Homo sapiens: one gene and its partners. The protein of the gene in region 2 interacts with the protein of the main gene of each other region in a pairwise test. Each region holds a gene or a part of one and is shown on either strand. Other genes may lie near its edges. The genes, in order: NEBL, MIPOL1, MYLIP and CDK18.

The links.
Region 1: the proteins of MIPOL1 (region 2) and NEBL interact in binary tests that used the Homo sapiens proteins (3 or more experiments, as listed by UniProt).
Region 3: the proteins of MIPOL1 (region 2) and MYLIP interact in binary tests that used the Homo sapiens proteins (3 or more experiments, as listed by UniProt).
Region 4: the proteins of MIPOL1 (region 2) and CDK18 interact in binary tests that used the Homo sapiens proteins (3 or more experiments, as listed by UniProt).

Annotation. Positions count from the first base shown.
Region 1 is NC_000010.11:20,887,305-20,894,329, reverse strand, and holds part of NEBL (nebulette), read left to right. Parts: intron 1-4,380; coding exon 4,381-4,485; intron 4,486-6,122; coding exon 6,123-6,233; intron 6,234-7,025. UniProt on the Homo sapiens protein: Binds to actin and plays an important role in the assembly of the Z-disk. May functionally link sarcomeric actin to the desmin intermediate filaments in the heart muscle sarcomeres.
Region 2 is NC_000014.9:37,200,917-37,207,941, forward strand, and holds part of MIPOL1 (mirror-image polydactyly gene 1 protein), read left to right. Parts: intron 1-7,025.
Region 3 is NC_000006.12:16,124,749-16,132,102, reverse strand, and holds the start of MYLIP (E3 ubiquitin-protein ligase MYLIP), read right to left. Parts: upstream 3,018-7,354; 5' UTR 2,781-3,017; coding exon 2,694-2,780; intron 1,547-2,693; coding exon 1,356-1,546; intron 1-1,355. UniProt on the Homo sapiens protein: E3 ubiquitin-protein ligase that mediates ubiquitination and subsequent proteasomal degradation of myosin regulatory light chain (MRLC), LDLR, VLDLR and LRP8. Activity depends on E2 enzymes of the UBE2D family.
Region 4 is NC_000001.11:205,521,660-205,528,684, reverse strand, and holds part of CDK18 (cyclin-dependent kinase 18), read right to left. Parts: intron 5,539-7,025; 5' UTR 5,518-5,538; coding exon 5,388-5,517; intron 5,203-5,387; coding exon 5,060-5,202; coding exon of another isoform or gene 4,970-5,059; intron 4,454-4,969; coding exon 4,328-4,453; intron 3,547-4,327; coding exon 3,490-3,546; intron 2,621-3,489; coding exon 2,506-2,620; intron 2,319-2,505; coding exon 2,224-2,318; intron 1,911-2,223; coding exon 1,848-1,910; intron 892-1,847; coding exon 768-891; intron 638-767; coding exon 517-637; intron 1-516. UniProt on the Homo sapiens protein: May play a role in signal transduction cascades in terminally differentiated cells.

The DNA of each region.
Region 1 (7,025 bases), on a different chromosome or scaffold from region 2:
GGCTAATTTTCATTTTCTTTTTCGTAGAGATGGAGTCTCACTATGTTGCCCAGGCTGGTCTCAAGCTCTTGGCTTTAAGTGATTCTCCTGCATCGTTCTCCCAGAGTGCTGGGATTACAGGTGTGAGCCACCGGGCTGGCCCTGCTTCGTTTCTGTAGATGAGAGGGATGGTTTCATGGACTTCTCTTCATGGTGCAGCCTAATTGTTACTCTTTGGACTTCTTCCAGCTTTCATATATCCTTAATAACCAATATGTAATAATCAGAACTGTGCAGAGTGGTACAGATGTGGACGGTCTAGATCACGTGTAGAGCAGGATGATGTTTTGCTTAGCTTCTAGCACCCTTTATGATGCTATGAAGAGTTTCTTAGACTTGGGAGCTGCAGAAAGCTGTTAGATCAGCTTGATAATCTGTAGACCATCAGAGCCATTTCATTCCTAATTTCTGACCTGTAGCTGATAGCTTAGGACCCATCATCTTTAAATAATAGTTTGAATTATTTTAACCACACTAGGGCTAGATCTAATCTGTAGTTTTCTGCCCTCTTGCCTGGCCCTTTGAGAACTTCTGAAGTTCATCTCAGTTTGCCGTTTCCCTTACTGAGACAGCTTGGAGTCAGCAGACCTGTAGACACTGCTATATCATCCCCTTGTCAGACAATTTTATAGAAATGTTAAGCAAGATTGGCCTAGAGATCAGCCCTAGGAAGCCTGCACTGCTTAGAATTCTCCATAGAGAGAAATGTCCGTTTTTCAGGTCAAGTGGCTTCACTTTGGGCATCAGTATAAGGCATTTTTCTTTCTTTCTCTTTCTCCCCCCACCTAGTTTCTGCTTTGCACTTGCTCTACCCACATTATGGGGTTCCTCTTTGCACAACTCACTTCCCAGTCTTGAAGAACAGCTGGTCTTCTGAGGCAGCCTCTTTTATTTTTCTGTTAATCACATAATACTATTATTTTCTCAGATATATTTTCACAGATATTCTCTCTGTCATATTTATTCCTGTTAGTCTAACCTAACATTATCTAATCAATCCCTTGAATAAGTTAAACCTATCCTCTCTATTGAGCATTCAGAATCCTGGATCTAGTAGTCTTCTGATGGGGAGTCATAAAAAAGATTGGGCAAAAGGGAATCTTTTGTATGTTTCTTGTAGATTAGGCAGAAAGAGCCTTCTGCAGAGCAGGTGGACCACATCTGCATGCAGCCTCTCAGTGTTTAGTTCAAGGCTGTTTAGGGTGTTCATCTGCATGGCAGCAGGAAGAATATTTTCCAGGCAAATGAACGTTGTTGTGGGTAAATCCTTTCAATGCCAAAAACATTAAATTCTGTGGTTACTCCTCCAGAGAAAGCTTAGATGGTATCAGAAAACCTGGGAGAGTGATCTTAGCTATGTCCAGCCCAGTTAAATAATGATGGAGCCATTGTTTTTCCTTCCAGGGTGTATTGAATTTAACTTGTATGATTTCACTTGTGAAGAGCCTTTCCAGATACTTTCAGTTAAGAATTCTTGTGAAAGGAAAGATCCGCAAACATCTCCATGTCTGTCATCCGATTTCAGCCTTTAGCTAATCTCATACTCATTCAAACAAACTTGGCCAGGAGGAGGAAGCGACCCTGCACTAAATTCATCCTAATTGTAATGGAGACGTGGGATTTGTGGGTGAGGGCAAAAGAGAAGGTCAATGTTTGGGACATCTTAATGATCATAAAGTCATCAATTTTGCCCTTTTTGTCTTTTGGTGTTGGGTTGTGTATTCGGTAGGAGTGCAGATGACTGTAAAAACAGGAAAACTCTAACACAATGGCTTAACAAGTAGGTTTTTGTTTCCCCAGCCTCCACATATAAAGCCCGGAGGTAGGTAGTTCAGGCTGGGTACTATGGGTGTTATCAGTCTCCCAGGCTCCTTTCCTTCTATTCTGTCGTCATTAGTATGGTGGCTTATTCCTTGGTAATGACATCATTGCTGCTGCCTTCCCTTTGATTGAGAAAGAAAAATGTGGAAGACAGAATGTCACAGGGTTGTGCAGCATCTCTCCCTTTGTACCAGAAACACTAGAAGCACTTCTGGGAAGATTTCCACTAAAGTCACAGAGAGTGTGGCTCCCCAGGCCAAACACTGGATGGCATGACCATGCCTGGTTTAGATCAGCTTGTCCTCTGGGGCTGGGCAGGAGCCTGGCTGCTCTCATTAATCCATCTGGGCTCTTTTAATAGGAGATAATGGGAGTGGCCAGTCTATCCAATAGATGGTGTCAACCCGAAATTGTAAGATGTAGACATGGCTGTAATAAAATATAGCAATCTATTCAGTGATTTTTATTTTACCTAAGATTTGTTTCATTGACCAATATAGTTCCCTTTCAATGATCATTTCCTGTTATCTTGGTGTAGGAAGGCTACTAATATGTATCTAATATTTATATAAATATTCCTTATGTATTTAAAAATCTAACATTCTTTGCTTATTGTCATTCATATTGCACAATTCACTTGAAATCACACATGATTGTGTGTGACTTCTAACAAATTGTACAATTTCTCTTGAATTGTACAATTGTAAAGGATCTTAAATTTTAAATACACCTTCATTTAAAATATACAAATATGTGTATCTTTTTAATAAAGACCCAAGAAAAAAAAATAGAGTCTACAATTAAGACTGAGCTATTTGTCTGCCTAACAGAAGAAGTAAATACCTCACCCTTATCCAGTCCTCCTGTCCTGAACGTTCTGCATGTGTCAGACTTTATCAGGAGGCTGTAGCCACAAGCACATACCACTGCAGTGAAGAATGTGAATGTGATGGGGAATAGATGGTGGCAAAAGATAAAAATAATGAGTCAAACTTAAGCCTAATGATAGGCTATTTTCTCTCACACTTAATTATATAACGGAGATACTTTTTTCTCCATATGATCAAAATAGCCTACTATTTATCATACTGCCATTAACAGTTTAATTACTAGTGGCTGAGGAGGGTGATTTGCAGGAACCTAAAATTATGGCTAATCTCTGAGAAGAAAAAAAAGTAATTTAGTGCTCAGATAAGATAAATATGTTCTCGTGTTGATTTCATGAATAAAGCAAATGTTTAATGTGGTAGGCATCTGATATCCAAGAGTCACAGCAGTGAAATATGGGATTTTGAAATAACTTCACTTAATCTGTATCTAGTTCTACCACAGGTTAAGTAATGCCCGTCAAATCAGGCTTGCATATGGGAAAATCTCCATGTACCATTAGTGTATAACATCAATATTATTCACATCCTCTAAGAACCAGGTAGTATATACAATTCAGCTCCACTTTTGGGTTATAATTAGGGAGAACATATAATTTATCATCTGAAACAGGAACACTTTTTCAGTTTAAGTATTTATGGTCTTGGGAGGATAAACACGAGCATATTACAGAGTGATACAACTTTTAGCAAATTACCTGCATCTTCTCAATGAGTCATAGTTTTGCCTTCCCAGTTTCCAGATTGTGCAGCAATTAGTGTGACAGTGTGATTATACTTTAGGTCCTTCTCCACATTTCCTGACTTCTTTTGGGCTCAAATATCCACCCGGGTCTTCCCCCGGCATAACAATTCTGGCCTATCCCCAAAGGGGAAGAGAGTGAGTCATTTGACTTGTGAGTTGCAGAGAAGAGATGAGCAGGTTTAGCTAAGCCTCACTGGGCTTTGTCTTGCTGATCTCCAGCAAGAAGGCCTTCTGGAATGATCTCCACCACATAGCAAGCTTTCTGGGCAGGTTCAGTTCTTCTCTGCGCTCAGGAGGAGGATTGGGAAGCCTATGGGTGCTCATAAATTGGGAGGAATTAGTAACAGGAAGCCCACGTTGGCCACAATTTAAGCCTCTTCCTCTAATCAAGCATGTCTAGGTAATAACGGTAATAGTGATCCCCATTTAATTTCGCCTCTACTTCTTAATTGGTCACATCTGTCATGCTGACTACTTATTTTCTACCTTGAGGTAGGCAGCTGTGTTTCTGTTTGGCCAAAGGCTTATGTGTCAAGGCTTAAAAGCAACAAAACACCAGGACACTTGTAGGAGCGAGATGGCACATGCTTGCTAATTGCACTGGGCTGGCTGGGTAAACAGGACCCATCACCCGTAGCCAGCACGCCTGGTGTTGATGCTTAACTGGACCCTCGCTTATCTAAAGAATGGTCTTTCCTCACTATGCCTCATCATCTTTGCAATCCTGTGCTGGATAGCCGTTTATTTAACTTGGCTTGTTTTGAGGTCCCTTTCACACTTGAGTATTTACTTCAGTAAATGGACTTTATCAACCTAATTATCATTCAAAAAAGGCCATTAGAATTGTTTTTCTTTTTCTCTTCTTATGTAAATCATTCTCTTTTTTAGATCCGTTATAAAGAAGAGTTTAAAAAGTCCAAGGATAAGTGTACATTTGTGACTGACAGTCCTATGCTAAACCATGTAAAAAATATCGGTGCTTTTATTTCTGAGGTAAGGTATCAAAAGCTTGCAAACTGGCTTGCATTTATCTTTTTCTTATTATATAGATGAAAGTCTGTGCATTAAAGAGATGAAGAATAATATTTTCAAAAGCACTACTGAATGTTAGTAATAGCTACATAATTATCTAATGTGATGCGCTGTCATTTAACTCATATAGATTGACAGATTTTACTATGTATGCTTCATACATTTTATTATATATGTCTATATTTTGACTCTAAATCTTTCTTATTTATATACGATTCCTCTTGAAAAGGCATCTTTTTATTAAATAAGTAAAAGCACTGGCACAATAGTTCACTTTAGAAGTTCCATTATTTTGTTTCCTAATAGATATATCAGAGATAAATGATTGAATATCATTTTGGAAATAAATAAGATTTACCAGTTTTCTAAAATGTGATATCTTTGATAAATAATTTTAAATGTATTTAAACTATTTTGGAGTAGGATAAAGTTCAGTTCAACAGTGATACCTATTATAAAATCACAGACTGAGGAATACGCTATATTCATTTTCCAGCTGAAAAATTATGTAGTTTCTTTCTGAGAGCATTTAGAACTACAGTTTATGTTGCATTGTAAAGCACAATGTTAACGATGATGATTTCTGTGGTGAGGCATTACTGTAGTCTGTGAATAGATCACTTAGAAGAGATACGTTTGAAAAGAAACGGAAATGAAATAGTGTTGTAAATGACTGACCTCTAGTGTTTCATAAATTATGTTGGAAAAAGATCAACTGGATGTCCTTGGGATTATTTCTGCTAATGCGAAACAATTTTGAATGAAATCAGTACGTTTTCTTTCATTAAGTACCAAAATCCAAAGAGTGTGGTAGCAGAAGGCTAGCACAGGATCTGTGCTCAATAAATCAATACTGAAATCTAGCTCTGAGCAGGAAGAACATCAGGAACTCATCTGCAGATAATGGAAGAACATAGTTTGTTTGTCTTAGCTATGTTCCATTCTCCCGTGCAGATAAATACTTGATGTTCTCAATTATTGATTATGTTTCCTGAAGGAGTTAATTGCAGAGCAAAATATTGGAAGTGAGCAATCTATTGTGTTCCCTTGAACCTTAGTTTTCCCAAGAGGAAAGAGTGTTTGTCTTTAGAGTAGTGACTGAGATGGCTTAAAGACAGTGCAGGCTAGAGGTGGGTAGGCACATAAACAACAAAAAAGCACTCACTCCCCTCTCCCCCTGGAGCAGGAGGAGGCTGAGAAGACCTGAATAAAAGAACACTGTCCTTTGTCAAGTTCTAGATAGTAGATTCTAACGACTTGCATTTTCTGGAACAACTCGAATTGTTTGCTCACTCATCCAGCATGAAACTGTCAATATACACAAATAGATTTACTTTTAGAAATGTGCTTGCATTTAAATAGAAAGCCATTATGTCCTTGCATGTCTCATTGAAAGCGTTCTCTATGATAAATTGGATTTATTTCTATCTCTTCAGAATCCTGGAGTTTGTCAGCTCTGGTATCTAAAATTAAAATGGTCTGCAGATTTTAAAATCAATTCTGTTTTGGGAGAAAGTTTCTTCTTTTCTACTTATAATCACAGTTTAAAAAAATGGAAGTTTATTTATTTATTTTTTTCCTGTTTTTTTTTCCCCCAGGCAAAATACAAAGGCACCATTAAAGCTGACCTTTCTAATTCTCTTTATAAGCGGATGCCAGCCACAATTGACAGTGTTTTTGCAGGAGAAGTTACACAGCTCCAGAGTGAGGTAGGGTTTTTCTAAAGTGTTTCATGATTTTGTAGATAAAACATATAACTGGAAAAAAGCTACTTAGCGTTTTAATAAAACGTTTTCATCATGGGTGTTAAATACCAAATGAAAGTTGAAAGCAACTGATTAATGTGCTGTCAGTAGTTGCTGTTGAAATTGCAGAAAATGAAAAGGACACGCAGGTTTATGTCAGTCACATGGTACTGTTTTCTGAGTCCCATTCAATGCAATTTATAGAGCAAATCTTAATCTCATTTAGACAGCTTACATGGATGAAATTCTTATAGTAAATATTAAACTGTTCTCTAATTTGATATATGATCCCTAAGTAGAGAATATTTGAATAGCTTGTTAAAAGCCACATAAAGAGATAATGGGGCTGGACACTCTGGCTCAGGCCTGTAATCCCAGTACTTCAGGAGGCCAAGGTGGGCAGAATGCTTGAGCTCAGGAGTTGAAGACAAGCCTGGGCAACATGGCAAAAGCTGGTCTCTACCAAAAATACAAAAATTAGCCGTTTGTTGGCATGCACCTGTGGTGCCAGCTACTCAGGAGGCTGAGGTGGGAGGATTGCTTGAGCCTGGGAAGTTGAGGCTGCAGCGAACCAAGATCATGCCACTGCACTCCAACTAGAGCAACAGAGTGAGCCTCTGTCTCAAAAAAAAAAAAAAAAAAAAAAAAAGGTTGAATTCAGGATCCACAGATCTGCTTCATCAATTAGACAAGTGTTTCCTGAATTTCCTTTTCTGTAGATTGTGTTTTTCCTTTAGGATATCTCAGGCTACCAAA
Region 2 (7,025 bases):
TTTTGAGACAAGGTGTACCTCTGTCACCCAGGCTGGAGTGCAGTGGGGTGATCTCGGTTCACTGCAGCCTCTGCCTCCTGGGCTGAAGTGATCCTCTCACCTCGGCTTCCCAAGTAGCTAGGGTTACAGGCACACACCAACATGCCCAGGCTAATTTTAATATTTTTTTGTGGAGATGGGGTTTTGCCATGTTGCCCAGGCTGGTTTTAAACTCCTGAGCTCAAGTGATCCTCCTTCCCCAGCCTCCCTAAATGCTGGGATTACAGGCACAAGCCACCACACCTGGCCAGTATTGTAAAGCAGCATGTGTTATAGTGTTTTGGTGTTGGATTTCAGATCTCTAAACATACTTTATTTGGTTTACCAGTTTTACCTTAAGACTAATTAGAGGCCAGTTTGATTCTTGTCTGAATTGTTTTTACTTCTCCCACTTTCTTCTCACCCTGTAAATCTGAAGAACAAAAGACAGGTAAGAAGTGAGAAAAGAAAGAAGAGACAGTCTTTCTTTGATATTATTTAAAAGGCTAGGAAAGAAAAGGATGAATGTCTAGACAGTTCTGGATATTTTGAGTAAAAATATGTAAAAATATATAATATAGTTATTGTAATATTTTAAGGTGCATTTTGTCCTTTGAGCTGTTCCATCTTGGGTTTTCTGACATTTTTATCTAGTGATTGAGTACACTCATGATATAGGACGTAATAGCCATTGACTTGGGCCGTGAAGCTCAACTGTGACACCTCTTCCCAGGATGGAGGCCCTTTCTTCCTTAAATGTCTCTTTGGGCTGCCCAGTTCATCTTTTACTCTTGGCCCCCTGCCTTTTGCTCAGTATTGCCCAAAATTTTACTTTAATACCATTCAGCCCACCATCCATGTTAACATTTTTAGCTAACACTTTCTAGGTATTTGTTGTTGTTCTTGTTGTTGCTTTTAGAAACAGGATCTTGCTCTGTCACTCAGGCTGGAGTACAGTGGTGCAATCATAGCTCACTGTAACCTTGACCTGGGGTCAAGCTGTCTTCCCTGCTGCAACCTCCCAAGTAGATAGGACTGCAGGTGCTCAACATCACACCTAGCTATTTTGTTTTCTGTTTTTGTTGAGACAGAGTCTACCTTTGTTGTCCGGTCTAGTATCCAACCCCTGGCCTCAGGTCCTCCTGCCTCGACCTCCCAAAGTGCCAGGATTACAGGCATTAGCCACTGCACCAGCCCATTTCTTGTTTTTAAGTAATTTATAGAAGTGAATTTAGTGCACATTTAGATATATGCTAATACTAATGAAGGGTGTGAGGGTAATTTCATCAGTGTGATCCTTCTTTGATATGTATAATTGTTTTTTTTAGTCTTACTTGATTGTTATGCAGATAGATTTAAGAGGGGCCTCACCTTCCACTATCAATTCATTGCAGTTAAGTAAGCTTTTCTCATATAGAAATTCTGGATCCAGTACATACTGCATTTCATTACACACACACACACACACACACAAACACACACACAATGACTAATGTAAATACCTTCCTGCTTTATAAGTCCCACACAAAGCAATTGTGTTCATATGCGTGTTTTTCATGGCACTCCTTGAATCAGCTTGGAGTCACTACAAATTATTATGGGTAATAAAGGGCATGTGCCAGTAGGAGGGATTCTCAGACAAGGGAGTCCCCTCCCTCCAGGGCTTCAGACTTCATAAGGGAGCAAATAGGGAATTTATGTGGCACAAATATTTAATTTGTACGATCATCCTTAGGTGATGCTTTCATATTAGTAAGGATGTATTTGTGAGTCCAATTGTAGTCATTAGCTTCTGACCGTACCTTCTCCCCTGCATATTGCCTGCACTACATTGCCATTGTTGACTTCTGGGACAATTTTCCAGGATTTCATTACTAACAAACCTTGCCTTTTCTGGTTGCAGTTTTTAGATACTTTATTTAGGTTACATTTAATCTTGTTTACCATATTTAGGGTGACTGTGTGTTCAAGGTGAATGTATTTGTCTATTGCTTATTTGTTGCTTTTATAATTTATTTCCAGCAAATCTTATTACTAGTACGTCCAGCTACCTGGGACTGGGGATGGGCAGATGACTCACTTCCACTTGCAACTTCACGTACCATCTAGAGATGGCTTTAGGGTTGATGAGAGAAAAAGAGATAATGCACAAGATTAATCAATTGTAGCTGCTTTTGTCAGCATTGTATTATTATTCTCTCTATTGAATTTATTAGATTTTGAGACTATCATAAAGAGAAGATAGAACTGTTTTAGAGCATTAATTACAAAAACAGTTTACTATAGTGGAAAGAGCACTGGGCATAAGAGCAAAATAAGTGTGGCTCACTACCTGTTTGTTTTAACTTTTCCTGGAACTCAGCTTTCTTTTGTGAAATGAGGCCTTTTGATGAAGTATCTCTAATCTCTGGTAATCTTTTTCAAAAGACTGCCAAGAGACCGTAGGGGTCATTTAGGCTACCTTCTCAGTTTAGTCACATAGTTACTAGAACCTATTTTTGTTCTGGTTTTTATTCCAGTTGCTTTTTCCATTATACTACCTGTGATAGGGAGCCTTCTAAAATGACCTTGGTATTCACTCTTGTGTAGTTCCTTCCTCTTGAGGGTGAACTAGACCTAGAGGCTCACTTCTACTAGAATATGGCAAAAATGGTGTGATGTCACTTCTCAGATTAGATTACAAAATCTATGACTTCCCTTTTTGCTGGCACTCTGTTGCTCACTCACCTTGAGGAAGTCAGCTGTCATGTTGTGAACTGACCTGTGAAAAGGCCCACCTGTCAAGGAACTGAAGGGGACCTCCAGCCAGTAAGGAACTGAGGTTCTCAGTCTAAAAAACCTCAGGCATTTGTTTATTTATTTATTTGAGATGAAGTCTCACTCTGCCGCCCAGGCTGGAAAGCAGTGGTGCGATCTTGGCTCACTGCAACCTCCGCCTCCCGGGTTCAAGCAATTCTCCTGCCTCAGCCTCCCAAGTAGCTGGGACTGCAGGCACATGCCACCACGCCCAGCTAATTTTTTATATTTTTAGTAGCGACAGGGTTTCACCACGTTAGCCAGGATGGTCTTGATCTCCTGACCACGTGGTCCGCCCACCTTGGCCTCTCAAAGTGCTGGGATTACAGACGTGAGCCACTGCGCCCAGCCCCCTCAGGGATATTAATCCTGCCAACGACCACCGAGAGAGTTTGGAAGCAGATCCTCTCCCTGTTGAACATTGAGATGACTGCACCCCTGGCTGACACTTCGATTCCAGCCTTTTGAGAGACCCTGGGCTGGAGGACTTAGCCAAGCAACACTCAATTTCTGATTTTTAGCAACTGTGAGATTGCAAATGTGTATTGTTTTAAGCTGTTGAATTTGGGTTTAATGTGTTAAGTAGTGAGATTGCAAATGTGTATTGTTTTAAGCTGTTGAATTTGGGTTTAATGTGTTAAGTAGTGATATAGTTTGCCTGTGTCCCCACGCAAATCTCATCTTGAATTGTAGCTGCCATAATTCCTTCATGTTGTGGGAGGGATCCAGTGGGAGATAATTGAATCATGGGTGGTTTCTCTCATACCGTTCTCATGGTAGTGAATAAGTCCATGAGATGTGATGGTTTTATAAGGGGAAACCCCTTTTGCTTGGCTTTCATTCTTTTTTGCTGCCGCCATGTGAGATGTGCCTTTCACCTTTCACGATGATTGTGAGGCCTCCCAAGCCACGTGGAACTGCGAGCCCATTAAACCTCTTTCTTTTGTAAATTGCCTGGTCTCAAGTATGTCTTTATTAGCAGCGTGAAAACGGACTAACACAGTAAACAGACTAACACAGTAAATGGACTAATACAGTAGAGTGGGGTGCTGCTGAAAAGATACCTGAAAATGTGGAAGTGACTTTGAAACTGGGTAACAAGCAGAGGCTGGAATAGTTTGGAGGGCTCAGAAGAAGACAGGAAAATGTGGGAAAGTTTGGAACTTCCTGGAGACTTATTGAATGGCTTTGCCCAAAATGCTGATAGTGATATGGACAATAAAATCTAGGCTGAGGTGGTCTCAGATAGAAATGAGGAACTTGTTGAGAACTGTAGCAAAAGCAAAGAGACTGGCGGCATTTTGCTCCTGCCCCAGAGATTTGTCGAACTTTGAACTTGAGAGAGATGATTTAAGATATCTGATGGAATAAGTTTTTTGTTTTTTTTTTTGAGACGGAGTTTTGCTTTTATTGTCCAGGCTGGGGTGCAGTGACACGATCTCAGTTCACTGCAACCTCCACCTCTGGGTTCAAGTGATTCTCCTGCTTCAGCCTCCTGAGTAGCTGGGATTACAGGCATGCACTACCACGCCCAGCTAATTTTTTGTATTTTTAGTAGAGACAGGATTTCATCATGTTGGCCAGGCTGGTCTGGAACTCCTGACCTCAGGTGATCCACCCACCTCGGCCTCCCAAAGTGCAGGGATTACAGGTATAAGCCACTGCACCCAGCCAGTGGAAGAAATTTTTAAGCAACAAAGCTTTCAAGAGGTGACATGGCTGCTGTTAAAACACATTCAGTTTTTTTTTTTTAATACCTTAAGTTCTAGGGTACATGTACACAAAGTGCAGGTTTGATACATAGGTATATACATGTGCCATGTTGGTTTGCTGCATCCATCAACTCATCATTTACATTGGGTGTTTCTCCAAATGCTGTCCCCCGCCAGCTCCCCATCCCCCAACAGGCCCTGGTGTGTGATGTTGCCTACCCTGTGTCCAAGTGATCTCATTGTTCAGTTCCCACCTATGAGTGAGAACTTGCGGTGTTTGGTTTTCTGTCCTTGTGATAGTTTGCTCAGAATGATGGTTTCCAGCTTCATCCATGTCCCTGCAAAGGACATGATCTCATGCTTTTTTATGGCTGCATAGTATTCCATGGTGTAAATGTGCCACATTGTCTTAATCCAGTCTGTCATTGTTGGACATTTGGGTTGATTCCAAGTCTTTGCTGTTGTGAATAGTACCATATAAACATACATGTGCCTGAAACACATTCGGTTTTATAAGGGAAGCAGAGCATAAAAGTTCAGAAAATTTGCAGCCTGACCCTGCAATTGAAAAGAAAAACCCATTTTCTGAGGAGAAATTCAAGCCAGCTGCAGAAATTTGCCTAAGTAACAAGGAGCCAAATGTTCATCCCCAAGACAATGGGGAAAATGTCCCCAGGGTATGTCAGAGGTCTTCATGGCAGCCCCTCCCATCATAGGCCCAAAGGCCTAGGAGGAAAAAATGGTTTCATGGACCAAGCTTAGGGTCCCCATGCTATGTCCAAGGACTTGGTACCCTGTGTCCCAGACACGCCAGCCTTGGCTGAAAGGGGCCAATGTAGAGCTCAGGCCATGGCTTCAGAGTGCGCAGGCCCGAAGCCTTGGAAGCTTCCATGTGATGTTGAGCCTGTGAGTGCACCGAAGTCAAGAACTGGGGTTTGCAAATCTTCGCCTAGATTTAAGAGGATATATGGAAATGCCTGGATATCCAGGCAGAAGTTTGCTACAGGGATGGGGCCCTCATGGAGAACTTCTGGTAGGGCAGTGCATAAGGGAAATGTGGGATTGGATCCCCCACACAAAGTCCCTACTGGAGCACTGCCTAGTGGAACTGTGAGAAGGGGGCCACCATCCTCCAGACCCCAGAATGGTAGATCCACTGACAGCTTGCACCATGCTCCTGGAAAAGCCTCAGACACTCAACACTGATACGTGAAAGCAGCTGGGAGGGAGGCTGTACCCTGCAAAGCCACAGGGGCAGAGCTGCCCAAGATGTAGGAACCCACCTCTTGCATCAGTGTGACCTGCATGTGAGACATGGAGTCAAAGGAGATAATTTTGGAGCCTTAAGATTTGACTGTCCTGCTGGATTTTGGACTTGCATTGGGCCTATGGCCCCTTCATTTTGGCCAATTTCTCCCATTTGGAATGGCTGTATTTACCCAATGCCTGTACCCCCATTGTATCTAGGAACTAACTTGCTTTTGATTTTGCAGGCTCACAGGTGGAAAAGACTTGCCTTGTCTTGGATGAGACTTAGGGCTGTGGACTTTTGAGTTAATGCTGAAATGAGTTAAGACTTTGGGGGATTGTTGGGAAGACATGATTGGTTTTGAAATGTTAGGACATGAGATTTGGGAGGAACCAGGGGCGGAATGATATGGTTTGGCTGTATTCCCACTCAAATCTCATCTTGAATTGTAGCTCCCGTAATTCCCTCATGTGGTGGAAGGGACCCAGTGGGAGATACTTGAATCATGGGGGCAGTTCCCCCATACTGTTCTCCTGGTAGTGAATAAGTCCAGGTGAGTTCTGATGGTTTTATAGAACCCTTTCGCTTGGCTTTCATTCTCTCCTGCCACCACCATGTGAAATGTGCCTTTTACCTTCCATGATGATTGTGAGGCCTCTCGATCCATGTGGAACTGTGAGTCTATTAAACCTCTTTCTTTTGCAAATTGCCTAGTCTTGGGTATGTTTTCATCAGCAGTGTGAAAACAGACTAATATAGGTAGCAATAGACAACTACACTATTCATTAATATCAGAAAAGCTTTAATCTGTTTTTATCAGTTTAAACTTATTTGAGGATATGATATTATTATTATTATTATTATTATTTTTTGAGATGGAGTCTCTCTCTGTTGCTCAGGCTGGAGTGCAGTGGCACGATCTTGGCTCACTGCAACCTCTGCCTCCCAGGTTCATGCGATTCTTGTGCTTCAGCCTCCCGAGTAGCTGGGATTACAGGCACGTGCCATCATGCCTGGCTAATTTTTGTATTTTTAGTAGAGATGGGGTTTTACCACATTGGCCAGGCTGGTCTTGAACTCCTGACCTCAGGTGATCTACCCACCTCAGCCCCCCAAAGTGCTGGGATTACAGGTGTGAGCCACCATGCCAGGCTGAGGGCATGCTATTTTTATATCTTGAAAAACCAATTATTAACAGTTTTAACTATAAATCCCATACTTGTTTTTGGTTATAATTTAATTGCTAGGTG
Region 3 (7,354 bases), on a different chromosome or scaffold from region 2:
TCATAATAGGACTACACAATGAAAATTCCAATATGTTGTGTTATATCTTGTATTCGACTGCAAGTTATGACAGTGAAGCGCAAAGCTTTCACAAATCGGCTTTAAATAATAATTTTAAAAAGTCTATTCTGATTAATACAGACAGCTAAAACATCCTTAAGCATGCAATCACTTGAATATTTTGCAAGATATTTTCAGGAGTACCAAGAACTCAATATACCATCTTCATTCAGAAACAAAATTAAACGTCTGCCTCAACCTTTAAAGCTCGATTACAAGGCAAAGTGGAAATTTCAAATTCAAATGATAAGTATTTCAAAATGAGTCTTTATCAGTCCTTTGGTAAAACAAACAAGCAAATGTCATGTAAAAAACTCTTAAAGGATAATGCTCATTCATCATTACTTAAAATTTTTAGAATCACATTTTTCATATGCATGGCAAATTTCTCAGCCAAAGAATTATGAAAAACATTAGAACTTAGATCCAAAGCTTGCTATGTCTTCAAAGTAGCTGTTTTCCTTTTTAATTTTTTGATATGCCACTGTAAGATTGAAGTCTCCTGCCTTTCAATAAATATTAAATATCAATTTCCTAGTTTGGCTCATTCTTGAGAATCAAGTATTAGAGTCAGTCCAGGGGAGAACATATTTTGTTTGAAAAATGAGACCACATGCTTCAGTTGTCTACCACTGTTGGTGGTGTTTTACAACGTAGAGAGATAAATTCAATCTATACTCACCAATCGTGTGTAACATATCTGTGGGTTGGAATTCAGTTACAGTAGCCTTAGAAGAGTTCATGAAATTACATTTTCAAGAAACTTAAAAACTTTAAAAATTCTGCATGAAGTCAAACAGAGCTCTTGGCTGCACACTGTAATCTGACACTAGGCTGAAGAAACTGACCAAGTTTAAGTAACCCAAGAGGAACTGTTTCCTGCTTTCTGTTAGAACAGTCTGCAATGACCTATAGTAACACTGCTGAGGCAGAGGTTACTATCGGGCATTAGATGCTGCTATCAGGAAGTCAGTCACTCGGGTAGGGTGGTTTCTTTTTTTTTTTTTTTTTTTCCTGGGGTAGCACTTATCTCAAGTGTTTGTAAGAATTCAACCCTGCTCACCCATCAAGTTTATAAAGACAAGAAAAACTAAAAGAAGGATTGGAAAATGCACTCAGACCAAGTAGGTAGCTCCCCCTCCACCTCAACAAAAGGACCTGCATGGAAAACCTAAGTTAAGATGGAACTCCGCATCAAAACAAACTTGCCTGTGAGTATCTCTGGGAAGGTGCAGCGGCCCTTCTAAAGGGAACCAAAGGTCAATTTGACATTGGTTTATTTTAGCTCACTTTACCTAGTCTGCTCCTGTAAGATGAGATGAGGCTCCACGAAGAACTTGACTCTAAGTTTAAGCCTGTAAGGGGCTAGCCCATCCATCTGCTGGGAGATCCGGTTTCTCAGGTTTAGCCATAAACTTTCACCTTTGCTACCCGTAAACTGCAGTCCAAAATAGTCAACTTCTATGATTCCCAGTCGCCTGCACACCTAAAACAAAAAGGAATGCAGCCTGGATGAGCAAATGGTACGTATCAAAGCAAACCCAACGGCTCCCTGAGGCTAAGATTGCTGGTGCTTTTTACAAAGTTCAATGGTGTTACAATTCCTGATCTAAACTGGAAAAACAAAGTTCCACGGCTCCAATGATACCAAACCACGAGCTCTAGTATGGAGGCTCATAATTCCTTTTAACGTCTAGGGCATGACCAATTGCAATAGAGAAAAAAGGAGTCCTCAAAAGTAGCCTTCCAAAAGATGAGGAGGGGAAACTACAGGGTATTTTCCTTCGTATTCCAATCACCGGAATTCCCTCCACCAGCATACTCTGCACAGCTGATTTTTGGCGACTTATTATCTGGGCAATTTTAACCATTTGGACTCCAAAAATCAAACACATTGAGGGAACACGCCACAAGTGTCAGCTAAGCTTCACAAGCGGTTTTCCAAACATCTCAGAGCTAGAGGGGTTGAGGGCACAGCGTTTTCCTGGGATCACATGTGCTGTCTGCCATACCACCTCTGCACTATTTGGCACCGATCTCCCTCACTGTTAAGGAAACACATGCTTAAAAACAACCGAGCAGTAGATGACCCAAACCTATTCCTCCCGTCCCCCGCAAACCCGGAGATGCAGGTGAACGGTGCATTTGAGAGCAGCAGCCTGAGAAGCAGCGTGAGACAAGGGCCCGGCTTGTCTGCCAAGAACCCCTGGGGCCCGAGACTGCTTCGAGCCACTCCATCCCATCCTGGCACGCGGGTGGCACTGCCAGGCGCCGCGGGGACCCGACAGGCGGCATCACGCACATACCTGCGGCAGGTGTGCGGAGCCGCCTTCTTCCGGGAAAGTGCTGGGTTGGGGGGATGATGGGGCGCTGGGGGGTGGATCCCGGCTGCGGGCTGCGCCCGGCCCTCAGCGCTGGGGACCCCCGCTGCGCGCTTTCTCCGCGCACCCCACGCGCGCCAGGAGGAGACCGCGCGCCCCACGCCCGTGGAGAGGAGGGGACGCGCTCCCCCCGGCTGCCGCCGCAGTGCCTCCCGGCCCCTAGTAGGGGGCGCGCCAGAGTGCCAGGCGTCGCTGCGAGGCCCCTCGGCCTCGCGGGACCCGCCGGGGCCCCTTCTTGCCCCTCGCCCTCACCTGGTTGAGGCAGTCCTCGCCGTTGGCTTTCGCCTCCACCTCCACCTCCATCAGCACCGCGTCCGGCCTCGTCACATAACACAGCATGGCTGGGGCTGCCGCTGCCGCCACAGCCGCCTTCTCTTTGGTGTGCGCGGGGCTGCCGCCTTGTCACTGGTGGGACCCAGCCCCGGACTCGGAGAGGGCTGGCCCTCGAAGGCTGCAGCTCTGCGGACCCTTGTCCGGGGCCCCGCGGCCGCCACTCGCGTCCCCGCCACCCCCTCACCCGCTGCCCGCCAGCTGCCCCTGTCCTCCGCGGTGGCGCCGCACTCCAGCAGCCCAACTGCCTGCGCTGCGACAGGGACTCTGCTGATATAGCGGCCCCGCCCCCTTCAGCTCGGGTCCCCGCCAATCACGGCCTCCCTGCCCCTCCTCCCCCGCCCGATCAGCCAATAGCGGCGCCCCTCGACCGCGGCCCCCGCCTCCCAGAGCCGGCTGAGTTTCCCTGGCCGCCCCGGGAGGTGGCAGCTTGCGGGCGCCGAGTGCTGCGGGAAGGGAGGGAGACCCCGGAACACACCAGCCGCCTCTGTCCGCTGGGCGACGCTGCTCAGAGTGAGCGATCGCCCGGGGCTCCAGGCGGGGACGCCTTTCTGCCGTCTCGAATTTACGGTGATTAAACACCTCCAAGCTGCCACTGTTCTTCAAATATCTTGGATCACTCTGAGCACGCATTTCGGTTGTGAAAGCAAAAAGGAAAAGGAGCAACCCAAAGCCTAAAGAAAACTGTTCTCGTCCGGGCATGGTGGCTCACGCCTGTAATCCCAGCACTTTGGGAGGCCGAGATGGGTGGATCACCTGAGGTCAGATTCGAGACCAGCCTGGCAAACATGGTGAAACCCCCGTCTCTACTAAAAATACAAAAAAAAAAACAAAATAGCCAGGCGTGGTGGCGGGCACCTGTAATCCCAGCTACCTGGGAGGCTGAGGCAGGAGAATCGCTTGAACCCAGGAGGCGGAGGTTGCAGTGAGCTGAGATTGTGTCACTGCACTGTAGCTTGGGCAAGAAGAGCAAAAAACCCTGTCTCAAAAAAAAAAAAAAAAAAAAAAAAAAAAAGAAAAGAAAAAGAAAAAAGAAAAAAAAAAGAGAAAAAGAAAACTCTTTTCCACCAGGATTAGCCACAGTGGGTTGCTTGGAGGCAGAATTGTTGTTCCTTATTAAGACCTCATCATTGAGAAAAACAAAATCTGAGTATGAAAGTTTTTGCAGCTGACCAGTGAGCCAGGTGTCTTGGTCTAGTGCTGGTGTGTTACACTCCGGAAGGGCTTCTCCTTACTCGTTCTGCTGAATCAAAACGCCTTACAGGGTACCAGGCCCTCTCTCAGGTTGCTCATTCTACCTCCTGTCTTATCTCACTCATTCATTAAACATTTGTGCAGCACCTGATACCCTGCCTGTCCCTTCTCACAGGCAACCAGATGTTGTCCTCGTCTTAAGGTAAGGTGCTCATCTCCTGACCTAACAGGTGGCATTACTGCAATATTAGCTATTAAAGGTCTACAACCCTTCACTCATTTACCGCTTGTTCCTCTTTGCCAATATATTACATAGCCTACCTTTTTGATTTCTTTATAGGAGCCAGATGATGTGGGTTTCAGCCGTGGAAACTTAGCAAACTTACTTCAGGCCAGCTCGATGGCTCACACCTGTAATCCCAGCACTTTTGGAGGCCGAGGCAGGAGGATCGCCTGAGCCCAGCAGTTTGAGACCAGCCCGGTTTCGCAACACAGCGAAACCCCATCTCTACACAAAATACAAAAAATTAGCCAGGCGTGGTGGCGCCTGCCTGTAGTCTCAGCTACATGGGAGGCTGAGGTGGGAGGATCACTTGAGCCTGGGAGTTCGAGGCTGCAGTGTGCTGTGATCCCCCTACTGCACTCCAGCCTAGGCGACAGAGCAAAAGACCCTGTCTCTAAACAACAACAACAACAAAAAGAAAACAACGAAAGAAAAAAAAAGAGAAAACTTACTTCATCTGTCTGAAGCTTGGTGTTGTCAACAGTAAAATGGAGATGGCAATATCTGCTCTGTCTCCACCCAGCATTGTTGGGAAGCGCAGCAAAGATAATAACGTTCACAAAAGCATTTGAATGTCCCCGTGTATGTAAGGGGAGCTATAAGTTCAGTGCCTTCACTGCTTAATGATGACTTTTCCTGTCCCTACCCCCCTTCACGAGTCCCAAGGATCTGTTAGTGGCCTTTATTTCCGAACAACCAGGTACGATATCAGAGCCCAAGGCTAAAAAAAAAGGAGGGATCCTCCCACACACAGTTCTTTGCTAAAGCTGACCGAGTAAAACTGTAAACTGTCCAAGTCCTAACCCCCACTGTTGCAGAGGAACAGGTGCACTCTCACATCTTTCTGTCTTATAAATACACCTCATGCTATTGTGGGCTGAAACAGTCCCTTCTTGTATTAACTGCAGTGCCTATTCCCTGAATTCCAGTTTACTAATAATCTGGGGAATTTATCTGGAAGATAGCGTTTGGTTCATTCCTTGTCTACTTTATGCTTAATTGCTAGAAGTTTCAGAAGAGGAAGAAGAGGCGAGGGGCAATAGGGAGACCAGTTATATTGGTTAGTATTTTTGTTTATGAACAATAGAAACTAAAGCTGGCTAACTGGAAACTCATAGAATCAATGGGACCAGGTGTGGAAATGAGTAGAACGGGAAAATATTGGTTGGCCAAGAAAAAAAAAATAAACAAAAATAAAACAAGCAAACACCCAAACCAAATACCCACTTTGTGGACTACTTTAAAAATAACTTATATTTTTGGTTTTAGCAGGGATTTTTCTTTTGCAAGTATGATTTCATTGTTTTTTTAAAAAATCTAAGCTTGTAAAATAGTTTGTAGAAGCATAGGTAAAATCTGACATGTTTATTTTATTTAAAACTTTTTGGCCAGGCGTGGTGGCTCATGCCTGTCATCCCAGAGCCCTGGGAGGCCGAGGCAGGCAGATCCCTTGAGCCCAGGAGTTTGAGATCAGCCTGAGCAAAATGGCAAAACCCCATCTCTACTAAAAATATAAAAAATTAGCCAGGCATGATGGCATGTGTCTGTAGTCCCAGATACTCAGCGTGCTGAGGTGGGAGGATGGCTTGAGTCCAGAAAGTCCAGGCTTCAGTCAATCATGATCTCACCACTGCACTCCAGCTTGGCCGAAGGGAGTGAGACCCTTTCTCAAACAAAACAAAAAACAAACAAAACCCCACATTTTTCATAGTTTTGTTGTTGTTGTTGTTGTTGTTTAGACAGAGTTTTGTTCTTGTTGCCCAGGCTGGAGTGCAATGGCATGATCTTGGCTCACTGTAGCCTCCGACTCCCTGGTTCAAGCAATTCTCCTACCTTAGCCTCCCGAGTAGCTGGGATTATAGGCACGCGCCCCCACACCCGGCTAATTTTTTGCTTTTTTAGTAGAGACAGGGTTTTGCTATGTTGGTCAGGCTGGTCTCGAACTCCTGACCTCAAGTGATCTGCCCGCCTTGGCCTCCCAAAGTGCTGGGATTACAAGTGTGAGCCACCGCCCCGACCTATTTTTAACAATTGTCATTTGCACAATAGTTGGAAGTAGAAGATTTACAAGAATTTTTTTTTTTTAATTTTTTTTCAGAGACAGAGTCTTGCTCTGTTGCCAGACTAGAGGGCAGGCAGTGATGTGAAAATAGCTCACTGCGGCCTTGAACTCCTGGGCTCAAGCAGTCTTCCCGCATCAGCCTCCAGCGTAGCTGGGACCACAAGCAGGTGCCACGACACCCAGTTAATTTTTGTATTTTTTTGTAGAGATGGGTGTCTCGCTATGTTGCTCAGGTTGGTCTCAAACTCCCGGGCTCAAGCGACCCTCCTGCCTCTGCCTCCCAAAGAGTTGGGATTACAGGTGTGAGCCACTGTGCTCGTGACAGGGATATTTCTAATCCAAACCCAGATAGTGCTTCTGCTATAGGATGGTTGGTGAAGATTTCAATTGTTTTGAAATTAAGAATCCCCAGATAAGACTGAAGAGAAGGATTTCTTAAAACAAAAACAAAGCTAAAAATAGGAAAATGGCACTTGGGGGTGGGAGGGGCGGGCAGTAAGAAATCCTTATGACTGGGAAGCAAAAAAAAAAAAAAAAAAAAATACTGGCTTCCCACTAGCATGTATGGAATATACTGGACCATGACCCCTCTCTCTCCTCGCTTTCTCTCTCTGTCTTTTCTCTCCATCTCTGTTTTGTAATTTATTCCTTGAGTAGAGCTAAGGAGAGACTGGTTAGTTACAGAATGAGGAGGCTGAGTGAGCTGGTGAGAAAGCACATTATGCTCAAAAGACCTGGTTAGGGAATAGAAAACCCGCAGTAGAATTACTTCCTCGAGGATTCCACCATCTGCTAATGCTGCTGAATGTCTGGAGCCAGTTTCAAGCCCCAGCTGGGTCTAACTCCAAATAAGAGACTCTGAACACCCAGGGTGGGAACTATATTAGATTGAGCAGTGATTGAAGCCAGAGAGATGCCCAAGTTATCTGTGTCTGCTCTCTTTTTCTCTCAATTAGCTCTCATCTTTTAAAGATAGCATTAAAATTAACCAGCATAGTGGAAAAAAAAAGGTCAGCTGTATGAATATAGAATTTAAAAATAGAA
Region 4 (7,025 bases), on a different chromosome or scaffold from region 2:
ACTCTCTCCACTGTGTGCCCCACTGGAAGAGAAGTACATAAATCCATTCTCCTGGGGAACCTTGGGGCGGAGTCACAGCAGCCATTCATAACCACCGGCGGCTTGGCTTGCAATTTGGGCTGATTTTTCATTTTACACCAAATCATACACTTGTTCATTTTAACATAAAAATAGTACTTCTCTTTCAAAATTTTCACTGGGACTGATGCTTGGGGAAGATTCATCGTATTTACTATAGGGGCCCTCCTGGACCCTCTGGGTCTCTGGTAACCCCCCACAGGCCTCTGGGGGAGGATTTCAAATGCACAGGCTTGGGGGTCTATTTAAGCCAGGGAAACCCTAACCTATTATATTTCAGACCTAATTTTTTAACATCCATTTCAGCAGGATGTCACAAGGCTTTTAGGCAAAGGAAGTTAGGCAGTTCTTCCCCGAGGCCCTTGGGGAAGCAAAGGAGAGTCTGGAGGTGTGGCCAGGCCTGTCCTCCCCTCCTCGGTCCCCACAGTGCTCACTCACCACATATCAATGGGGGTGGAGTACTCTGTGGATCCCAGCAGCACATCGGGGGGCCTGTACCACAGGGTCACCACCTCATTGGAGTAAGTCTTTGTGGGCACTGACTTGGCCCTGGCCAGTCCTGGGGGCAGACATGTCACTGGACCTCTGTCCACAGGTGCTGTGGGGTTGACTGCTATGCCCTCCCCCACTGCACCCACACCCTGAGGCACCCCAGTAGCGTCAGACCCCCACCCTAGCCCCAGCCTCACCAAAGTCGGCCAGCTTCAGCTCCCCCCTCTCGTTGATGAGCAGGTTCTGGGGCTTCAGGTCCCGGTGCAGGATCTTGCGGTGGTGACAGTAGGCGAGGCCCCGGAGCAGCTGGAACATGAAAATCTGGGGGAGGGGGAAGAGAAATGTGGGGTGGAAGGTGGCCCTGAGCCTCTGCTCCAAGGCTGGGACCAGGATGGGGGCAGGGGCTTGGCAGTGAGGTCAGCACAAGCCCCTCATTCTCCTGCACACCCTGCAGCCCCCATCCTGGACCCCACCCACACCAGGGAATCCCATCCAGAGGGGAGGACAGCAGGGGTGCAGAGGACGCAGTGAGTGTGGGGGAGGCCAGCGAAGTCTCAGTCAGGAGCACGGGGGTCAGGATGCCCGCCTATGTGGAGACATATGTGCTTGATCCCTTTTTTTTTTTTTTTTCTTTTAGAGTCAGGGTTTTACTCTGTCACCCAGGCTGGAGTGCAGTGGTGTGATCATGGCTCACTGCAGCCTCAACCTCCCGGGCTCAAGTGGCCCTCCTGCCTCAGCCTCTCAAGCAGCTGGGACTATGGGTGCACGCTACTGTGCCCGGCTAATTTTTCAATTTTTAGTAGAGATGAGGTCTTGCCATGTTGCCCAGGCTGGTCTCAAACTCCTGGGCTCAAGCCATCTTCCTGCCTTGGCCTCCCAGTGCTGGGATTACAGGCGTGGGCCACCATGCCCAGCCTTGATTCTTTAACAAACACCAGGAGAGGTCATTCATAACCCCGAGCTTCCCCAGAAGCCTCCCTGCATTTTGGCAGGTAGCTCACACTCCCATTTGACAGACTGGGAAACTGATGTTCAGAGTTGAGAGTGGGTTTTATACCAACAGCTAGACAGTGGCAGACAGTGTGTGTCTGTTCTTGGGGTAAAGCGCTCAACCCAGTTCCTGGACTCGTTGATGGCATTGCCCTCTCCCTCTTTCCTACGTGGGAAGGTCTGAGCCACCTCAGCAGCCGGATCCCTGGTGGTGAGAGTGGGTCCCCACACTGGGCTTCTGGACAGGTGGCTGCCAAGATGGGGGGACCCTGCCCCCGAGGCCTCACCTTGACGTTGTGCATGCTCATGAGGTTCCCACAGTGGTCCAGATACTGCTTCAGGTCACTGTCCTGGAACACAGAGCGTGGCTCAGTCCTGCCCCACGCTGACCCCTGGCCAGAAGCCCAGACACAGGCTGAGGAGAGGAAGCCCCTCCCTGGGAAGGGCCCACGCCCACTAGTGGGACAGGTCCCTGGCTCGAGCCACCCGTAAGCCTGAGCTCTTGGCCCACTCCTGCACGGGAGCATCTGAAAATCTGATTCCAGAACAAGGCCTGGGTCGCCCTCATCCCACTACTCCCACTCCCTCAGCTTCCCACTCCCCTACCCACACCCCGTTTCCACCACAAGAGGGAGAGGCGGCCAGCCCCAGCCGGACTCTCACCAGGTACTCAAACACCAGGGTGAGGGACCGATCTGTGTGGATGAGGTCATGCAGGGTCACAATATTGGCGTGCTTCAGGTTCTTCAGCAGAGACACTGTGAGGAGACAGATCCACCTGGGTCCCTAGGACCCCATGTGTCCCCATACCCTCTTTTCTTGGGGTCAGCGCCAGGAGTCCCATTCCAGCAATGATCCTCTACCCCCAGCTCCCACAAGGGTGCAGGCTGGTGAACCCCTCCTCCTGAAGCCCCCAGGGGAGCGTGGGAGCCTAGGATGCTGTACCCTCTCGGATGGCAGTGCAGGGCGCTCCCTCCTCGTGCTCCAGCCGGATCTCTTTCAGGGCCACAAGGTTCTCCGTCAGTTTGCTGCGCCCTTTGAAGACTGTGGCATAGGTGCCCTGGGATGGAGGGCCACAGCGGCCCCAGGCGCATTCAGGTGCTGCTGGCCTCTGTCCAGTGCCTCCCCATTTGTGCCTCTGCCTGGGCTACGACTGGGGCCTGAGTGCCCTTCCTCCCTTTACTGACATGCTGTTTCCTCCAAAGCCTACTTCCTCCAGGAAGCATCCCTAATGACTCCCCAGTCGGAGTGAATCCGTCCTTCCTCTAAGCCCCAGCACGCCGCGTGCCCGTCTATGATAACACCAGGTTTTTTCTTCCTTATACGATGCTGATGTTTACACAGAGGTCACCTCTTTGGGCTCCTGGAGGGAAAGGGCTGTGTGTTCCCTCTCTCTATAAACCTTCACCCACCCCAGGCCTCTGCACAGTGACAACAAAAATAGCTAAGTGACACAGCACTTCCTATGTGCCAGGCATTGTCTGTGTGCCGTACATAAGCTGATTACAGTAACCTGCCCAATCCTCACAATAACCCTATGTGATAGGACAATTACTGTCTCATTGGACAGAGGAAGAAACTGAGGCACACAGAGAGGTCATGTAACTTGCCAAAGGTCACAGAGCTAGTAAATGGTGGAGCTAGGTTTTGAACCCAGGCAAGAAGGACTTGCAGAAAAAAAAAAGACTGGATTCTGCCCAGGGCCATGGCTACTCTATCCTCACGCCCTCCTTCAGGATCTGAGCTCACTTCAATCCCTGCCAAAGCCTGGGCCAGAGCGCACAGCCAAGACTGTGCACCTCTATGGGGCAGGGGCCAGGAGAGGGCCAACCAGAGAGGGCCGACCAGAGAGGGCCGACTAGGGAGGTCTGCCCCTCCTCCAAGCCATCCTGCCTGGCTATTCGGAGAAGACCAAACCCAGCGTCTTACCTCTCCCAGTTTGTCCAGTTTCACGTATGTTTCCAGTTTCCCAAAGCCAATGTCTGACTGAGAGGGAGAGACATAGAATGCCGTGAGCTTGAAGCCCTTAGCAGCTCCACAGACATGACGCCTCCCCCAACTCCAGCCTCTGGGAGGGAAGGGATGAGACTCCATGGTGGAAGGGGCTCCTTTTCCCTTTATCCCTGTGATAAAGGACAGAGCTCGTGAAAGTGTGAGTTTCTTCCTCCCAGGACAGCCAAGAGTGTAGAGCCCAGAGCTGTGGCACCTGGGATTGTTGCACATCTTGACTACCTGTGTCTCCGACTGAGACCACGAGCTCCTCCAGAGTGAGTGCTGCCTTTTTTCCCATTGTACCTTGAGTGTCCAGTTCAGAATCCACCTCTCTGACTGTGTCTCTCATCAGCGCACTTCTAGCTCAGGTGTATCCAACCCTTAACAAGACGGATTCCTGGACCCCCTAGCCGGAGAGGCTGATTCTATAGGTGTCTGGAGGTAGAGTCTGTGTTTTGTAAGATGTCCCAAACAGCTCTGATAGGCAGTTAGGACTGGAAGGCACATGCCAGCTGGCCTATTGATCTTAACCATGTGGAGACCGTGGGACCCACTGTGGGCTTAGAGTCCCATTCCAGCCCAAGTGAGACCCATCTAGGAAATGGATGTTGATGTAGGAGGACGAGCTAGTTGAATGCACTCAAGCCAGCAGGTGGCACCAGAGGCCCAGGAATCTTCCTCGAAATCCCATCTAGGCCTCAGCTGGGACTGATATGCCCATGCTGGGGAGGGCATATCACCCCACCTTGTGTCCTCTGACCCTCTTGGGACTCACCAGGGAGGCCCGGCGGGACATGCGGCTGAGCGGCTTGGGCAGATCTGGGCTCTCCATCTGTAGCTTCTGTAGGAATTCCTGGGGCAGGCGGATATCCATGGGCAGAGAGAGCCTCTTGCTGACGTCCTGTGGTGACAGGGATGAGATGGGGACACCACTGTTGGTTTCAGGGTAGCTAGGGCTGTGGGGCTCCAGACTTTCACTCTGGACCTAGCGTTCCCTGCAGAACAACCATTCAGAGCCCAATCACAGGCTGTGACCCCAGGCTCACAGCTGCTCCCAGTGTGTGCTCAAGACATACACGTGAACACCCGGGGCTGCTGTGTGACCTTAGCACAGCCAGGTCACTCTCTGCCTCTCTGGGCCACAGTATCACCATCTGTGCAACATCAGTCTCATGCCCTTACAGGCACCGATTCTGTAAGTATATTTTTTCATATACTTGGGCATATGTGTGTGGATCAAATAGTCAAATTGTCTAGCCCTTGCTAAATTCAGGAATGTTCTAAGCACTTGGCATAGATAAACCCATTTAATCCATGATGACCATTTTAAAGACAAGGAGACCATGGTGCACAGAGGTTGAGTAACTTGCTCAAAGTCACAGAGCTAATGAATGGCAGAGGTGGAATTTGAACTCACAAAGTCTGGCTGTAAGGCAGCTGCCCTCCTGTGCACACCCTTGTGCGTGCATCCTGCCACCTGCCGGGGCAGAGCTCCAGAGGCCCTTACCTCCATGGAGAAGCGGCGCTGGTTCTGCCGCCGCTGGAACTGCACGCCAGGGGAGAGCTGCCCCGGCTCCTCCCCGCTGTCTGTTGGGGAGAAGGTGCTGCACTCCTGCGGGGGGTCTCTGCCAAGAGGACCGAGCTGCAAGTCTAAGAGGGACAGGCGTCAGCTCCCCTCCCTGCCTCTCTGTCCTGAGGGAGAGAAGGGTAGCCCCCCTCCCCCAGCGCTGTGCTCCTCCCCTAAGGCCAGTGGGGAGGGGGTGGGCGGGGAGGGGAAGGTGACTGGGGAGTGTCTGGTAGGTGGGAGAGGTGCTGGGTGGGCCCAGACCCCTCACTCTCATTCCGCCGGTTGTGGAGCTGGTTGAATTGCTCCGTGAATTCAGCCAAGGATTCTTCAATGGTCTCAGTGCGGGGCACTGACAGGGAGAAACGGCGCTTAAAGTTCTTCATCTTGTTCATGATCATGAGGGACTGGGCAGCCGGGTCCTGAGATGGGAAGTGTGAGAAGAGCAGTTGAAAAGAACAAGGCAACCAGTCCAGGTCTCCACCCACTGGGAATTCAGCTCTCTCATCAAGCTCTGTCGCCCTGTATGCCACCATCACTGGGAGCCAGGGTTGTGTCTTCTGCAAAGTTTGACCCCTCTGAGGGTGGGTGTTCACCCTCTTCTTCCCAGTCACCTTCTTCCTCCCAGTGACCCTCAGCACTGCCTCCACTGCCCACCGCCCGCCCCGCCACGCCCTGTGCAGTTCTCTATGGACCACCTAGTCCAGCAAAGTATTGGTCATAATAGCAGGCATGATGTGCAAAGAGGATCCTGAAGGCCCCCCAGACCTAAGCCCTTTAGCTGCTGGAGGTCTAGAGAGTTCTGGGGGAAGGGCTGGGGTGGCAGGGAGGGTGCCAGAACCAGGCAGTCCTTGGACCAGCAGAAATTTACCAACTTGTGTCCAAGGGCCTGAATGTGTCAACAGCCAATAAATCTTACTGACCAAGGCCCGTAAACTGAATGTCAGCTTGGCCAACACCCTTGGGACATGATTGGGTCCAAACCTCATTTCACCTCTGATACTGACACCTGAAGGTCTCTGCTCTGGCATGCCCCAGGAGGCAAGAGGGGAAAAAGAGGAGGAAGGGAAGAGTGCATCAGAGCTGGCCAGCTGCACCTTCTCTCCAGCTGAAATACAGGAGGTCAGGAGCAGTGGAAGGTCTCAGGGGAAACACGGAAGCTTGCCATTAATAGAGTCGAGCCCTAGGGAAGATGAGGCTTGATCCCTGCAGGCCTCTTCCCATGCCAGAGCCCTCCAAGCAGGCAGGTATCCCCTACCGAGAACACCATGGAGGAGCGGGGTAAGCTGCTCTGCCCACCCCCACGGTCCTGTCCCCAACCATGAAAGCTTTCTTCTTCAGGCTACCCAGCTCCTCGTGCCCTCTGAATTAGAGGATGCCCTGCTGGCCACCCAATGAGACCCATGCAACTGCTTCTTCCTGCAGACCCTCCCTTCTCCCTCCTGCCCTGAAAACCCAGAGCAGCGCTGTCTCACCTCCCCTCCACTTCCCTTCATGGTTTCCTACACGCTCAGTGCAGCCCCCCTCTCATCCTGCTCTGCACACACTGCCCTTGAGGCCTCACAAGGGCTTCCACCCATGCTGGCAAGAAGGCACCAGGGGGTGAGCCCTATGATGGGCCGCCCTGCACCCGCTCCCAGCTGTTACCCATGCACCAGCACCAGGCACAGCCCACTCCTGGAGGATGCTCTCAGCCCTGCGACTGGCCAGCACCTAGTTGCCAAGGCGACCAGGCCCTTCCCGAATCCTCCTGGTTTAAGGGATTATGGGTCAGTAACATGTTGGCTTTGCTTAATGATCACATCCTTCTGTCCTCAGCCAGCCTGGAAAGGGTCCTCTGTCTGGCAGCGCATGCTCCTGGCTGCCCCCAAACACAGCTCAGTGGTGGCCCTCCAGCTGCCCTGATCCT